3 separate regions of the Homo sapiens genome follow, and all the other regions are linked to region 1. The links come from fine-mapping of genetic effects on gene expression. A gene starts in region 1. Each other region holds a variant in brackets. All regions are shown on one strand. Distances are from middle to middle. Region 1 holds the start of PTPRE (protein tyrosine phosphatase receptor type E). Region 2 overlaps PTPRE (protein tyrosine phosphatase receptor type E). Region 3 holds the start of AS-PTPRE (lncRNA antisense to PTPRE protein-coding gene).

Region 1 (5,220 bases):
AAACACTTCTGACAACACGCTTCTGTGTGACAATGATGAATGTCTGTAGACTTTAGAAAGGGTTGAGAATTTTTGGGGTCCAGCAGAGAAGATATTATGAGGAAAGAAGAGCCATCTGCCTCCCCATCATGTTACCAAGGCTGTTCACTTTCCAATAGCAGATGTCTGACAAAGGCAAGTTGTTTCTGTCTTCTTAGCTCACAGTCTCTGCCTCCTCAGCCCTGCAGCGTTAACAAGCAAAACTGTGCTTAGCAGAGCTTTGTAATTATGGCCTTCATGTACATAAGCCTGACTCTGTAGACCACAACAGCAGAAAAATCCAAAGCCTGGTGACGTCATGTGCTACCTGGCCCCACCTCAACCTGGGCTGTTCCTTGGAGGTGCACTCAGGAGGGAGCCACCCGCCCTGCTGGGCTCCGAGGTGACCAGGCTGTCTGCTGCTGCTGGCTGGGGCCCATCCTCCTCTGCTCTGACAGCCCAGACGCCTTCACTGAGCACCTCCTGGCTACTGACGTTGCTTTAGGAGCTTGAGTCTGAGAAGCCATGGAGATCAACAGAGCCTAGGCTGCTGGAGCTTACAGCCCTGGGGGTAGGGGAAGAGGGCACGACAGACACAAAAGGAGCCAATAAACCCACAAATAATTCCAAACTGTGATGGAGGATGTGGAAGAGAGTGGCAGAAGAGATGGATGCAGGGCGATCTTCCAGAAGCCACCAGTAAGAAGGAACCAGGTGCACTGGTTGGAGGAGTCCCAGGCAGGAAGGAGCTTGGCTCTGGCACTGAGAGAAAGGAGCCGTGATTGGAGCCCAGCGGGCAGGGGTGAGAGGCTCAGAGCAGCCAGGGAAGTCAGGCAGAGCCTCGTGGGAGTTTGGGTTTTAATATTCCTGGAGGCTTTTAAGCAGGGGGCTAGCAGGACCCGGTTTACACTTTGTGAGGTGCCTGGGACCAAGTGTGAAGAATGGATCATCTGGGAGAGTGGGTCAGAAGCTGGGGAGCCACTGCAGGTTTTGGAGGGGCGCAGGCAGTGAGATGAAAGGGCAAGATGCATGGAGAAGCCAGTGGGAAGTGGACTTGGGCCCTCTGGGAGGTGGACTTGAGGTGGGACACGGAGGCAGGGACAGGGACGACTGCAGAGAAACTAAGTAAGAGCAAGAGGCAGGTCTGAGACAGCAGGAGACAGCCAGGAGGAGCTGAGCTTGGAGGAGAGGGCCCCAGAGTGGTGCTGCTTAGAGTCATTCCCATACGGATGGTGTTTAAAGCTTTGGGGCTAGACAAGGCCCCCAGGGACAGAAATGGGCAGGGCAGGGCAGGGAGGTGGAGCTCAAGTTCTCCACTGGTTTCGCAGCTCTCCGGCCCCTGTGGAGGGGAAGTCCCACTCTGGGCAAATCACGTGGGGGTGGCCTCTGCCAGGAGGCACCCATTGCTCTGCAGCCTTTGGGGTCCGTAGCTCTGTCTAAACAGGCCTTAAGTATGCTAAGAGTCGTCGGCTGGCAATCGGTGCAACGTGGGGTAACACACCGTAAGTGCCACTTTCTCCCCATCCATTCATTCATTCATAAGCCTAATGAGCTGGGTCCCTACCACAGAATGCAGCTTCCCTCATGAGGGCTGGGCCGTGGCCCCATCCAGAGGGCACGGCACAAAGGTTCAGAACCAACATGCCACCAGTGTCTTTTCTGCTCCTTCCAGGGAACTGCCTTTTCTCTGAAAGCTCCCTAAATAGCTTGAGTGAAATTCCCTGGAAGAAGTCGGCTAGACAGCAGGCCCAGTGCCTGGCTCTGTCGCTCTTCTTTCTCTTTGTGCGTTTTTAACTTTGACAGATACTGCCTTCGGGACAAGCGAGCCCTCTTCTACATCCCCCAGACAGGCGCCTTATCCCCTCCTCTTTCCAGAGGAGGCCACCAGGCCCAGCGACCTCACAGCTCTCCCAGCTTCCTCGCACCAGAAGCGCACGGGGTGCCCTGCGTGTCCCACACCTGCTGCAAGACCAGGGCGAGTCCCTAGTCAGGCCACTTCCTGGTGCACAGGGATAGGGCAGGGAGAGGCAGGGCCTTGCCTTTGCTCTCCACCAGGTGTGAGTGCCTGCCATACCCTGACCCTCTGTCTACGCACCTGGGTCCCGGCGGAGTGGCTGGACCAGGCCTCCCCGGAAGGGGCACCAGCCTTGAGTAAACGGATGCCCACAGTGTCTGGGTGCTCCCAGGGCAGGGCCGCAGGGCCTCAGGGCCATACCCGCCTCGCAGGTGGGGCGGGCGCCCTGGATGCGCTCCCCGCGCCGGGCACCAGGCGTCGCCCCCGCTCCTCGCAGCGCCCAGGCCCCCGCCCCCGCCGCGGAGCCACAGCCGGAGCTGGAGCCGAGGCGGCGGCGGGACGCGGCCGGCCGGACAAATTTCCTGCTAGGCTGCGGACAGCGGGCGGCAGGAGCCGGCGCGAGCGGCTTCAGGAACCCACGGCCTCTGCGCGTCCCCGCGACCCTTCTTCGCGCCCGGCGAAGACAGCCGGGCGCCCCGGAGGGCGGCGGGCAGGCGCCCGGGAGATGCGGAGCCTCCGCTGCAGCGCGATCTGCGCGACCAGACCGGCCCCCCCGAGGTGAGCGCGCGTGCGGACAGGGACCCTGCGCCCCTGTGGGGAACTGTGCACCCCGGGAGGCCCAAGCAGGCCGGGGCGCTGCCTCGGCCGCTGCCGCGGGAGGGAGGGGCCGCTCCGGGGCTCAGAGTCCGGACCCCGGCCCCGCCGCCCCCGCGGCGCGCCCAGTACCAGCGGCTGGGGCCCGTACGACCCCCGACCCCGGCCTGTGGCGCGTCCCCTCACCCGGAGTCCCCAGCCCAACTTGGCGACCACAGTGGCAGTGCTCACGCTCCCTCTCGGTAAACAGGAGGAGGGCGCGCGTGTCTGCGGGTGGCTACAGTGCGCGGGGGCCGGCGGCAGGGCGGCGTACGTGAAAGCGGGCGACACAGAGAGGGGGTGCAGGCCGCGCGTGGGGGGCTGCGCCCACTCGAGGCTGGAGGCTGGAGCCTTTGAAGAAAGTGGCTCGAGTTGTGCCAACTCTGGGAGGGGCCGGCGCTCTGCCAGGATGCTGCCCCGCAGCCGGGCGGGCGCCCGCGCCTTCCCAGGGAGGCAGGTGGAGCGGGATGCAGCAGCCGCCGGGGGTCGGAGATGCGGCAGGGAGACCCTGGCAGGTGGTCCAGGCTGGACTGCCGCGATTTGCAGGGTCGACGACCTCACAGGGCTCCTGAGCACAGATGCGAGCGCGGTGCCAATTCTGAGAGCTCCCGGGACCATCTGGGGAAGGCCGGGCAACCCACAGGATGGGGAGGCAGAGCCAAGCCGGATGGAGACCGCGCTGGACCTGACCTAAATTCCTTCCAGGCATGCAAACCTTTCCAGAAAGATTAGGCAATTATACTTGCAGAATTATGATATTGGTTTGTCTTGAGTCGTGACCATTCCATCAGAGTTTCAATCCAGGAAACTCAAAGAAAGAATACAGCTCTCTGCTTGTATTTTAGAGTGAATGAGCGTATAGGTGAGTTGAATGAACACCAGCAAAGAGTGATCACGTGATACAGAAATTACTGTGTCCATGTCCAGTCAGCTCTGCATTTGGCCCCAGGTACCCCTTGACCCAGGGCGTCTGGAGGTCTTTGTGTCCCAAAGATGGATGAAGTTCTGCCTCTGCACACTAACGACTCTTGTCCATTTAAACTGTGTGTATGTGGGTGGGGAGGGGGGGTGTGGAGGGTCGTTTCCAAAACTGGGATAATGGCCAGAGGAGGGCATGAAATGGTGGGGGCCAGTGGCTGGGGCAAGCGTCTGACCACCACGGTCACTCAGCCAGCATGGTATGGGCAGAGCTCTGTGGTGTGAACAGGGTTAGGGTCTGTACTTTCCAAGCACAGGCTCTTGGCATTTGGGGAGCAAAAGGTCAGAGGCGAGGTGGAGCAGGCCCAAGAGGTGGGGGCTGCGCTGTCAGTGAGAGAGGCCTGACGTACCACCCAGCCCTTCCCAGACAAGGCTCTGCCCCTGAATCTGACCTTGGGGGCCAAGATTTTTGTTCATTGATGTTGGTGATGCCTGTGAGTCACCACCGCCCCCTCCCTGCCCCAACAGACCGTTCCCATGTGGACAAGAGCTAGGAGCTAGATTTGTCTCTGTAAAAGGTCAGGTCACTGGATGTGTCCAGATGGCTTGGGACTTAGTCACACACTCCCTCATCAGTTCCAGTCAAACCAGTTGAGGGAAGTCGATGAGGGTGTTATTGTCTTTACGTGTGATGCTTCTTGGAGGCCCTGTGTGGACACAAAGTGAGGACAATGCGGAAAGTCACACAGAGGCCACCTCTCATTTCTGTGGGGGACAGCTGGCAGAGAGAGATGCGCTCCCTGTGTCAGCACCGCCACCTCCACGGAAGCCTGGAGGAGGTCCTGAAGCACTGTGCCCTGATGGGAGCCCCCTCTTCTCCAGGGATGCGTGTGTGCAAACCATTGCCCCTGAGAGTAGATGCGGCTGTGTGTGTACATCCTTGCCCCTGAGAAGAGAGGTGGCTGTGTGTGCAAATCTTGCCCCCAAACCCCAAGAGAAGATGCATTCACAGTGGGGGTGATGGTAGATGCATCAGTTTCAACTGGTGAAAGTATGCTTCTCCCAGCTGTGCCTCAGTGGGTCCACTGTGCTCCATCTGCACCACCATTAGCCTAGTCTAAGGTGCACCGCTGATCAATATTCCCTCCCTGAAGGCCAGAGGTGTGTTTCTAGGCCCGGCCACTCCTCTGTAGTTCTCCTCCGCAGCTGCCCACTTGACATTTCTCCCTGGGATATCAAATGCCCCTTGACTCAATGCGTCAAAATCAAACTTGTGATCTCCCCTCCCCTTCCAGTACTTTCCCAGTGTTGTCTTTATCCATCCAATTCCACCAGCCTCCATGTTGCTTCTGAAATGTATGCCAGACTATAGTTTCTGTGAAGAGAGGGCAATACTGTATCTCCAGTGCCCAGCCATGTGCCTACCAGTGGAGCCTTGAGGACTACTGTCCATGGATAAACAACTTGGAAGTGAGACCTTCCCGAAGCGCATGTGCTGATGGAGCAAGTGTGTGTCTGTTGCGTGGATGTTGTATGGTTGATAGGCAGCCACACATTTTTGCCGATGTGGATGGGCATGGTCCATCCAGGGCTCATGTGGCCAGCCCTTCTGGAGATGCTGGACTCACCTGCTAAAA
Region 2 (5,220 bases), 160 kb after region 1:
GGTTTCTACAGGAAGCCCCCCAACAACACACAAGTCGTTATGGAAGAGCACACCATGCTCAGATGGGCCCCCACAGCAGAGTCTTCCAGAACACGCTGTCCTGGAGACCAGGGTCCGAGGACCAGGCTGCCCCTCGCCAGCTGCCACTTCAGCCTCGGTTTCCTCACCTGTGATGGGAAGGACAGCCTCGGCGGAGCCTGTGACTGGCATCTGGGTGGGCTTTGCACAACATGAAGAATTACTCAAATGTACAGCCAAGGCCACCCCACAACCCCCTGTCCACAGAGAGCCCCACTTGTTCCTGGCAGTGATTGGCCTCACCAGGGTATCACTTTGATTAGATACTAAGTTTCCATCTGTTACAGACAGGTTCATTCTGAGTATCACAGCACTGCCAGGGACAAAAGCCACCTGCACGCAGTGATGCAGGCGCTCTGCACCTGTCATGCAGGTGTTCACGAGAAGCCGTCCAGGAACCCCCGAAGAACGGGCTTTCCCCAAGTCTGAGCAACACTCGCTTGCTGGGGCCAAGCAGAGGCTGGACCCCACCCCACCCACCCTCCAGTGTAGCTCATACTGGGAAGAATTTGCAGGGTCAGATAACAGTAATCTGACAGATGCCACCTCACTTAATGCCCCGAGTCAGATGACTTGGTTTGCCCAGTTTGACAGAGAGGGAGGCTGGATACCAGAGCTGTTGCATAGTTGATCTGAGGTCCCTCTGCTCCCAGGGGGACAGATCTAGGATGCCAATCACACATATAAGAAGAAGACACTGTTTGGTAAGTGAGAAAAATTCTCCACACAGCCTAATCCGAGGCTTACTGCACCAGCTGTTAATGTGCCTCTTAGTAGAGTGTCGGTGGCTATCAGAGGACCGGCCTGAGATCACTTTACTGAGACCACAGCTCCCTCTGGTGGCTGCACTGTAGCTTTGCTCCTAATTAACCAAAAAAACAAAAAGTTGCATCCAGTGACCTGGGTGCGCAGGCCCCTTCGGGGCCTTTCATTTACTTCGGGAGGAGTGTGACTCACGACGCAGCATCTTTCTCTTTCCCCAAAGCGCGGGCGTGGGCCGGACGGGCACCTTCATTGTGATCGATGCCATGATGGCCATGATGCACGCGGAGCAGAAGGTGGATGTGTTTGAATTTGTGTCTCGAATCCGTAATCAGCGCCCTCAGATGGTTCAAACGGATGTGAGTCATGCCTTCCTCTTGCCCTGATCTAGCTTCCCAAAGCAAACCCGATGCCTTCGCCACACAGGTGTGCAGGGCCCTGGCTCTGATGGGCACGTGGCAACCAGCCTGGGCCTGGCCTGGCTTCGCTCCCCATAGCCTTCCCTGCCCACGCGTGGGACCTCAGGGACTCCCTCGTCCTCATCTTTCCCTCGTATCCTCATGTGAGATGGGGCAATCCTACTCCCCCAAACGGTGCATGTACACAGTGCGTGGCGTGCTCACCAATGTGAGGCTCTGCTGCTACCGTTCTCCTTACTCAAGGGCATAAATGGTCGTTATCCGTGGCCGGTACTCTGACTCTTGCCTCACACCTCCTTGTGTTGGCAAAAAGAGAAAAAGAAGAAAGCCGCCCTCTTTGGTCTGCCAAGCTCCACGTGGGCCAAGACTGCAGGGCAGAGTTGAGGGTGTGGGCACCCCTGGCCTCTCTGCAGATGCAGTACACGTTCATCTACCAAGCCTTACTCGAGTACTACCTCTACGGGGACACAGAGCTGGACGTGTCCTCCCTGGAGAAGCACCTGCAGACCATGCACGGCACCACCACCCACTTCGACAAGATCGGGCTGGAGGAGGAGTTCAGGGTGAGTACAGCTGACCCTCCTCTCCATCCTGGTGTAAGCAGCCAAGGGCACGAGGAAAACAGGTGACCATTTAAAGGAAGCCTCTTTCAATCACTTGCCCCTTAACTGACCTCAGAAAAAGCAGGGGCAATACCTGAGCCATGATTTACAAGGGAAGAAGGATCAGGTGGCTTTCAGAGCCTCATAGCAGCCCTACTAGGCACACATTTGTATTTCCCAATGCTAAGGAGGCTTCCTGGGTTGGAGAGTGGTTTCCTTTGAGCAGGCGTCCTTGCCAGCAGCACTAGTCCTCGGCTGAGCAATGTGCTCAGGAGTGTCAGAGGTTTAACTGTGTCATTATATCCTTCTCTGCTGCAGAAATTGACAAATGTCCGGATCATGAAGGAGAACATGAGGACGGGCAACTTGCCGGCAAACATGAAGAAGGCCAGGGTCATCCAGATCATCCCGTGTAAGGCACCCGTGGCGTGGCTTGGGCAGGGCTGGGGCGGGGCTGGTGCCGGAGGCTTTCATCCTGGAGAAGCCATTGACCGCTTACCCCTGTGCACCAGGGTCAAAAGCAGGGTGTCCTCTGGCCTCAGGCTAAGGGCTCCTGTGTGCTGTACCAAATGTCAGGTAGAAAAGACACCTGTGAAGCACCAGCTGACCCAGACAGTCCTGCATGGGTCTCAGGCAAGCTGCTTCGGATATGAGCTTGCAGATGCGGGAGGGCAGCCGAGGCTGATTTCAGGGGAGGGCTTCACAGAAGCTGGAGATTTGCGGCAGGCACGACTTGGGATTCCTTGTCTCATTCCTTGTCTCCCCA[A/G]GCCTGGGCAGAGGCCCGCCTCCCCCTTACACAGAGGGGCCTGAGCCACCCAGCCGAGGCCATGCAGGTGAACTCAGCTGAGACCACCTAGGAAAAGGCTGTGGCCTTGAGGAGGACAAGAAATGGGCCTAGGGTAGAGTCAGGACACTGGTCTGCCACCCAGGTCATGGGAGAGGGAAGGAGGACCTGGCAGGTGTGGGAGGAGTGGAGGCAAAGCTGGCAAGAAGACAGGGCCACATGCAGTGGGCAGGGGAGTGGGAATCGGGAGGCTCACCAAGTGGGAAAAAGAGAAACTTGAGAAACCCGGCCCCAAAGCAGACTCCACAGGGATCCGAGGAACTAGGGAGGGAGGTGGGAGATGCCCCGCTTGGGAGGAGGGTGTGCCTCGTTATAGACTTGTCCTCGACAGAGTCACAGCTCAACAAACACCATCTGGAAACAGCTGGGAGCAGGCCTGCTGCAGCAGGGTCTCCCCGAGCACTGCAGGCGAGTAGAGCTCCCCGGGGTGCTGCCATCTTCAGACTCTGGCCCTTGGTTTTCTGGGGCCCCGGTGTCCTGCTGGCCACTCTAGATTGCTTGCCTGGCCACATTCCATTTACTCCTTCAGCGCAATATTTTTAGTGCTTGTATTTTGGTATGTATTATATCGATTCCTGAAAAATGAAAATGATAATTGGGTGGTTTTCAGAGTTTTCCTTCAAAAAGAAAAATACCCCTGAGCCACTTTAATTATCGTCTCTCATAACGTAAACTTTCCAAAGAGTTGGCTTTACGTAGTGATTTTATTAATAGGATCTATATTTTGCAAGCTTGTAGCAATGGATTAAAGTTAGCAAGGTGGGACCCTTTTTGTAATAACTAAAGGAAGATAATGCTTTGCAGATGACTTCAACCGAGTGATCCTTTCCATGAAAAGGGGTCAAGAATACACAGACTACATCAACGCATCCTTCATAGACGTACGTATGCTGGCCTGGGTTGTGTTTATGCAGATGTGTTTCCTTCACATGTGACCACAGACTTGATTAGCTTGTTTTCACAATGAGAAAGAATTGACATGTTTCCAGAAACTCAGCCATTTTTGTTAGCAGAATTACTTGCTTAAAAAAAAAAGTGGCAAGGCACGATGGCTCACACCTGTAATCCCAACACTTTGGGAAGCTAAGGCGGGCAGATCACTTGGGGTCAGGAGTTTGAAACTAGCCTGGCCAATATGGCAAAACCCGTCTCTACTAAAAATACAAAAATTAGCTGGGCGTGATGGCAGGTGCCTGTAATCCCAGCTACTTGGGAAGCTGAGGCAGGAGAATTGCTTGAATCCGGGAGGCTGAGGTTGCAGTGAGCTGAGATTACACCACTGTACTCCAACCTGGGCAACAGAGTGAGAGCGAGACCCCCTCTCAAAAAAAAAAAAAAAAAAAAAAAAAAGTGGACTTTGGAAATAGAAGGACATAGACTCGCTGCTAAGTAATTGGCTCTTTTTTCATTCTGCTTTTAATATATAGTTATTTTTCTTTTACATATCTGTTACACACCAATTATATATCCACTGCCTCTGTGCTCTTTCTCTTGTGTGATTTCTGCAATGTGTACCCACGTGGACAATACAATTATGTGTTCAGGGCACACAGAGGCTGTCTTCATGCACAGTGGAGTTCGCAGAAGAAGGGCAAAAGGGGGAATGGCAGCCAAGTGTGTGTTCATATTGCCATTTGCAGATGAGAAAATTGTACCAGAATCCGGTGGGCTCCATGCTGATCTAGCTGAAACACACAGAAACATGTTAGAATCTAAGCCACCAGGTGCTGTTCAGGTGGCCACAGGCAACTACCAGTTCATAATACCCATTTGTTGATGACCTCAGGGGCTGACGGTGGCCGTTATGGTTTCAGATAAGCGAGCTTCTTGACCTGCTTGTCAGGTGTGTGCCTGAGTGCTCGTGCCAACTGGGGTCTGGTGCAGACCATGGAGGATGAGAGAGTTTTCCTCATTAGGCCTTAGGCTGTCCTAAACTTAGGGAGCAGGTAATGGAGCCAGGATGGAAGGAAGTCAGACTCTAACCTCTGCGCCTCCATTTGAAGGGCTACCGACAGAAGGACTATTTCATCGCCACCCAGGGGCCACTGGCACACACGGTTGAGGACTTCTGGAGGATGATCTGGGAATGGAAATCCCACACTATCGTGATGCTGACGGAGGTGCAGGAGAGAGAGCAGGTGAGGAGTGCCGCCCAGCCCGGTCCCTCCAGGGCAGCCTGTGCACCTGAGGCACTGTCCCCGTTCATTACAAATGTCCCACCTGCCATCACTGCAAACACATGGGTGAGACCAAGCCAGGACCACTAGGGAAGGAGAGAGATTGGAAATGAAAAAGGTTTCATTTCACCCTTTCCCTTTTTGGGAGTGAGGTTTAACCATAGCTACCCGCTGCCCTTTATCCTTAGCCTACATGTTATTTAACCTGCCCTGAAATTCTGCCATTTGGTATTGGCCAAGATCATAACCTGTTGAAGAAAAAGACATTTATTGACTTTTTTCAAGACATGAAGACAACAGTAAACCCAAGGTTTACCAACAATGTACATCTATCTGGG
Region 3 (5,220 bases), 160 kb after region 1:
CACACTCACTACACACACACCCCACACACAGAGCACTCCACGGTCAGCCTTCTACCCCGGAAAACTGCTTGTGCAACAGGCTGGATCTACCAGACGCTCCTCACTGTGCTCGCCTTCCAGCTCTGGGGCAGACTCCGGTGGTGGGACTGAGGGTCAGAGTCCCCAATCCTAGACCCCCACATCCACTTGTCCTCATGGGGCTGGTGCTCATTTCCCTGGGAAGCCTGGGAGAGTGGACCCAGTTCTCCTGTCCTGGGGCTCTTTTAAGTGCACCCACACTTGGCAACACTGGGGCTGGGCCCAGTGCAGGGTTCATAAAATACAGCCCTTGCACTGCCAGGGGCCTGGCACATTCTGCTATTCTTGCTATGTAATGACCCAGCAGCCCCCATCCTGGATGCTGAAATCCTACCCTTGTCGTCATGCCACAGCTGAGACAGTCAGTGTTCACCAAAGCAGGTGCATTCTCTCTCAGGACACTAGTGTTCTCCATGGGAACGCTGAGGAAGAACATCTCTGCCATCCCTGGTGTCGCTGTGAAGCTGCTTTTGCCCTTCCCAGGAGCTGACACTGCAGATGAAGAGACAGCACTGTGATTTCTGGAAGAGACAGCACTGTGATTCCTGGTCCTAATATCTTGGCTTTGTTTGGGTTTTTTTTCCAGATGACCATTCTAGGGTGATTCTGAGCCAACTGGATGGAATTCCCTGTTCAGACTACATCAATGCTTCCTACATAGATGTAAGTGGGCAGAGGTTTCTTGTTCCCCTGGCCCAGCTGGGGCATGAGCAGTAAGCACTTTCTTGTCTGGTGCCCGGAGTGTAAATTGTCACAACCTTTCTGGGCAGTTTGGCCACAAGCACAAAGGGTACGGAACTGCCCGTGCTTTACACACTGGCATCAGCATCTGGGAATTTGAATTCAAGAGACAGAGATGATCACAGAGGATGTTCACTACAGCATTATGTATATTCCTGACCAAATAGAACAGGGAGCATGGGTAGTTAAACAGATTGTGGTAAAACCATGTGCAGTGGACTATTAGAACTTGATTTGTATTAATCTTTAAAAGATCATTTAATATCAATTATAAAATTCCCATTAAAAATACAACATAAAATAAATTGTACATGTTCACCCAATTAGAGGACAGAAATGTCTGCATGTCTGCTTGTGGGTGAGTCTGGGAAAGGTTTGGCAGAAAAACAGACTAGAGAGGGGACGTATGAAGTAGGATTTGTTATTTCTGGAATTGCTGGTGAGTTTTCTTTCCTTCTTAACCTTTTCCTGTGTTTTGCAAATTTTCCATGGTGAATATGTACTGCTTTCCTAACAGCAACACCAACAAATCCTTTCAGCAAAGATAATTCTGAAAAAATATAAATCTGATGTTATTTTTTCTAGGGTTACAAAGAGAAGAATAAATTCATAGCAGCTCAAGGTAAGCTTTTTATTAATTTCTCAACGTATTTTTGGTAACGTGAATAGCTCTTATTTCCTTCTCTGTATGCCAACAAGACCAAGGACTTATACTGGATTTGTGTGTGTGTGTTTACACCTAACAGACACGTTAGATATCCATTCACACAACGGATATGTGTAGTCAGAGAAACACACACTTATTCCCACACCTATATGGTGTGAACACAGGGCACGCAATGGCCCCGGCTGCCATTCCAGCTTGTTAATACTTGCGTCAGATAACCTTGAATTTCTCTCAGCTGGCTGAGCCCTACATGGCTCCCCAAGTTTGGGCGAGGGGTTAGTGGGGTGAATAGCTTTTCAGATCAAGGCCATAACTAAGAATATACTTCAGCTGTGAAAACGTGCCCTTCACCTTGCACAGGGCTACCTTGTGTGTTGAGTACTGAATCCAGCATCACTCCGTTCCACCAGAGGTTGTCATCTGCAGGACCTGGTGTACGTGCGGTTAGATATCAGTGGAGCTGAAACCAGATTCCTCAGACTTCCTCACTCTTAGGCCAGGAGTCTTTAGGGCAATGAGCTCTGAAAGTCAGCGTCCATCAAAATCACCTGGGAAGTTGTTACAAATGCAGAATCTCTAAGAAAAAAGGACACACATGTGCACACGCAGAGGCCATCAGGAATGTGCCCAGCTGGAAACCTCAGGAAACCTGACGATCCTGGCTGAAGCAGATGAAAGCATGTGTTTCTCTCTTGCCAGCAGACACCCACAGGGAGCTAGCCCACGGCAGGACAGCAGCAGGGCCAGGGGCTTCCTTATCTCCCCGCCCATCCCCCTCAGCACGTAGCACTTAGCTCGGGACTGCAAAATAGCCGCAGCTCAGACAGGAAGTGGATAGGGGCAGAGGACTTTCTCCTAGTGACACTTTGTCTGTTGTTCACATCCCCCTCCCGAGGGACTTTAGCTCATATCGTATTGGACAGCACCATGCTGAGAGTAAGATTTTGACAAAGAGGAGGGGATTGGGAATGCAGGGTGAGGCTGGCCAGTCTCTGCCTCTCGCAAGGCTTTCACCAGCTCTCCCACACTTGGCTGTAGACCCAGCCCTCATCTGAACCCTGCTTCTTACCTGTGAACGTCATAACTCAACCTGGGCCCAATTATCTTGCCCACTGAGGAGTTCCTAGCTGGAGTGGGTGAGTGGCAGGACAGGCAGCCCCTACCGGTTCCGGAACGCTTCAGGGCATGACGTGTGTGTCCCCAACAAGCCTGAGAAGGGAGTGAACAGCTGTCCAGGGGCCAACGGCCAGGGTGCCGGGGCTGGGACCCCAAAGGGACTTCCCTTCATGCCTTTTGACTTCGAAATTGTCCTCTACACACAGGTCCCAAACAGGAAACGGTTAACGACTTCTGGAGAATGGTCTGGGAGCAAAAGTCTGCGACCATCGTCATGTTAACAAACTTGAAAGAAAGGAAAGAGGTGAGTTCCAGGCATCTGGCCCCGGTATCACTTCCTTTCAGCTGCTGCTGCC[G/A]GGCTGGGGATGTTCTTACCACTTCCTTTTCCTACTTCCCTCCCTTCCTCCCACTATCACTGCAGAAAAAAACCCAAACACATGCAGTGGCTTACAGCATTTTCTTCACGAAACAAATCCCCTGTGTCCCCAGCATCTCACTGTTATCTAATCTGTGATAACACAATGACACAAGAGTTTCCTTTTTTTCCCAAGTAAGAGTGGCCCCCGGCTGGCCCCATGGCTCTGCCTGCCTGATGAGAGACATGAATCTTAGAGTTTTAGGATGTTGAGCGTGTCATGCGGCAGAGCTCAGGCTAGAAATGAACATGATTTCGCGCTTATTATCCAGACTAGAGAAATGCTTTTGGAAAACGTTGGTATATTGAAGAAATGTTGATTTGTCATCCGAATATATTTAATTAGCTGTTTCTAATTCAAAAAAGGATGCATGTACGTTATAAGAATTTGAATCATTGACAAAGAAGAAAAGTTGAACTGATTCGTTTCCTAATGTAACAAGTACTCATTAGCATCTGCTGTGCTGGGCCAGCTCTGTCCCAGGTGCAAGGAGTAGGGGCTCAAATTCAGGGCTGAGAAGTGGTGGCTGTGGGGAGCCTGGGTGCGGGGGTGGGGTTGAGTGACAGGCAGGGAGCCATGCCATAGGCAGTGAGCTCACTCTCCAGAATGAAAGAAGAACTGGGAGCCTGAGGGACACTTACCACAGGTGGGGCGAAGTTAGGAGGCTGTGCTTCTGGCGTGTTCTGGCATGAAGGCCCGGTTCAGTGGGAGCCGTGTGTCCTGCCCGGCCCTGCTCAGGGCCTGCTGTGTCCTGAGCTCCTCAGTCATCTGCTGGCCTGGCCCCAGCAGTTCCCAGGCATTGTAGCGAGGACTGTGGGGAAGGGCTGCCATTTTTAGATGGGAGTACCAGGCCTTGGGGAGCTCAGCTGGGGCAGAAGATGGGTGGCAGGAGCCCACAGGAAGGGCAGGCTGGGAGGTGCTCTGGTCCCCGCAGTGCCAGCTTACTAATTGCCACCCAAAACACAGGAAGCAGCCTCCAGCCACCGTTTCTGGTCAGGAATAGGATGGAGGCTTTCATTCTGCTCTGGGGGGAGCTGAAACAGGACTGTGGAGGGCCACCCCTTTGCCCTTGCAAATCTTGCCCTTGTCATGCTTTGTCATGGGGAAGAGGGAAGAGTGACAGAGGGAAGTAGGGGATTCCCAGCCCAGGACTCTTCACTCTGCCTGCGCTGTAGCGGCCATGGAGGAGGACACCCACGCGAGGGAAAAGGAGGCTGACCCTTCATCAGGAGCCTCAGGGTCCCCCGTGACCCATGGCCCATAGGGACCAGTCTTCCTGGGGTTGGTGCTCCAAGCATGAGACCAGCACAGAAGCAGTGGGGCTCAAGGACGCCCTCACTTCCCTCTTTCAGTCATTCTGCTGAAAGTGTCACTGGCATTTTCTCTCCATCTTCCCCCACAACCTCCTACTGGATTTTTCCACTCCTGTGACTCAGTGCTGGGCTGCTGCCGCGTCCTCATTCTCACCAATTCAGATGAAATCATTTCTCAATAGAGTTCCCTTTTTCTTAATTGCTCACACTTCTGTTGTGGTTTCCTTGGCTTCCACATCCTGGGCTCTGCATTGCAAAACACAGCTGCCCTGGCATCTCATGATCGGGTGGGAGGGAGGCAGAGGGAGGGGGTATAAAACCAGCCACCAACACTGAGCCCTTGAGAGGCTGACACATGTTCTCAGTTCCTACTGGAGAGCCTTCAAGGTGAGAAGCTCAGGAGGGACCCCAGGGCTCCCCATAGGGCCAAGACTCACCCAAACCGGGACATGTAGGCATTTGCAATTCCCCTGGGCTGCATCAGAGATGGCCTGTGACCCACAGCCCCGCAGCCCCGCCCGGAGCCAGGTGTAAGGAGGGGGAAGTTGTCGGTAGCCGTCATAACACAATGATGCTGCTCTCTACTAAATACCAGATGCTGTTTGTTTCATAAGACTGTTAATCCTGGAGGCTTGACCACGAGCTGTGCTGCTCAGGGGCCATTCCCTGGATATACTCTCTGACTACTGGCAGGCTTGTTCCATTCCAGACATGTTTCTCTGGCAGATGAAGTAGATCTTTTCCCCCTTGAGGTGGGTCCTCATTCACTCGCGAAGTGATGGAGGACACCACCGGGCAGGTGCTGCGGGCGGTGCTGCAAAATGAAAGGGCTCCTGGAACGTGTATTTTGGGTCATTCTTGCTTCAGAGGTCGGGAAGGTAAAGAAATG

Evidence for each region. PIP is the estimated chance that this variant, and not a neighbour inherited with it, causes the effect.
Region 2: its variant is fine-mapped to the expression of PTPRE in whole blood (TOPMed, PIP above 0.99).
Region 3: its variant is fine-mapped to the expression of PTPRE in whole blood (INTERVAL, PIP above 0.99).

Annotation. Positions count from the first base shown.
Region 1 is chr10:127,904,720-127,909,939 of GRCh38, forward strand. PTPRE (protein tyrosine phosphatase receptor type E) reads left to right here and starts at 2,384. Exons shown (of 21, transcript NM_006504.6): 1 at 2,384-2,590. RefSeq lists a silencer at 2,228-2,347.
Region 2 is chr10:128,068,629-128,073,848 of GRCh38, forward strand. It overlaps PTPRE (protein tyrosine phosphatase receptor type E), which reads left to right. Exons shown (of 21, transcript NM_006504.6): 13 at 1,064-1,199; 14 at 1,673-1,822; 15 at 2,180-2,273; 16 at 3,510-3,586; 17 at 4,709-4,843. Among named protein-coding and RNA genes, the nearest start is that of AS-PTPRE, 8.8 kb to the left of the region's middle. RefSeq lists a silencer at 711-908. The variant A/G (reference allele first, on the strand shown) is at 2,628.
Region 3 is chr10:128,060,275-128,065,494 of GRCh38, forward strand. PTPRE (protein tyrosine phosphatase receptor type E) reads left to right here. Exons shown (of 21, transcript NM_006504.6): 8 at 665-741; 9 at 1,405-1,441; 10 at 2,809-2,906. It overlaps AS-PTPRE (lncRNA antisense to PTPRE protein-coding gene), which reads right to left and starts at 2,151. Exons shown (of 3, transcript NR_136150.1): 1 at 1,853-2,151; 2 at 413-570. RefSeq lists enhancers at 1,694-2,893, 2,225-2,274, 2,685-2,894, 3,234-3,832. The variant G/A (reference allele first, on the strand shown) is at 2,959.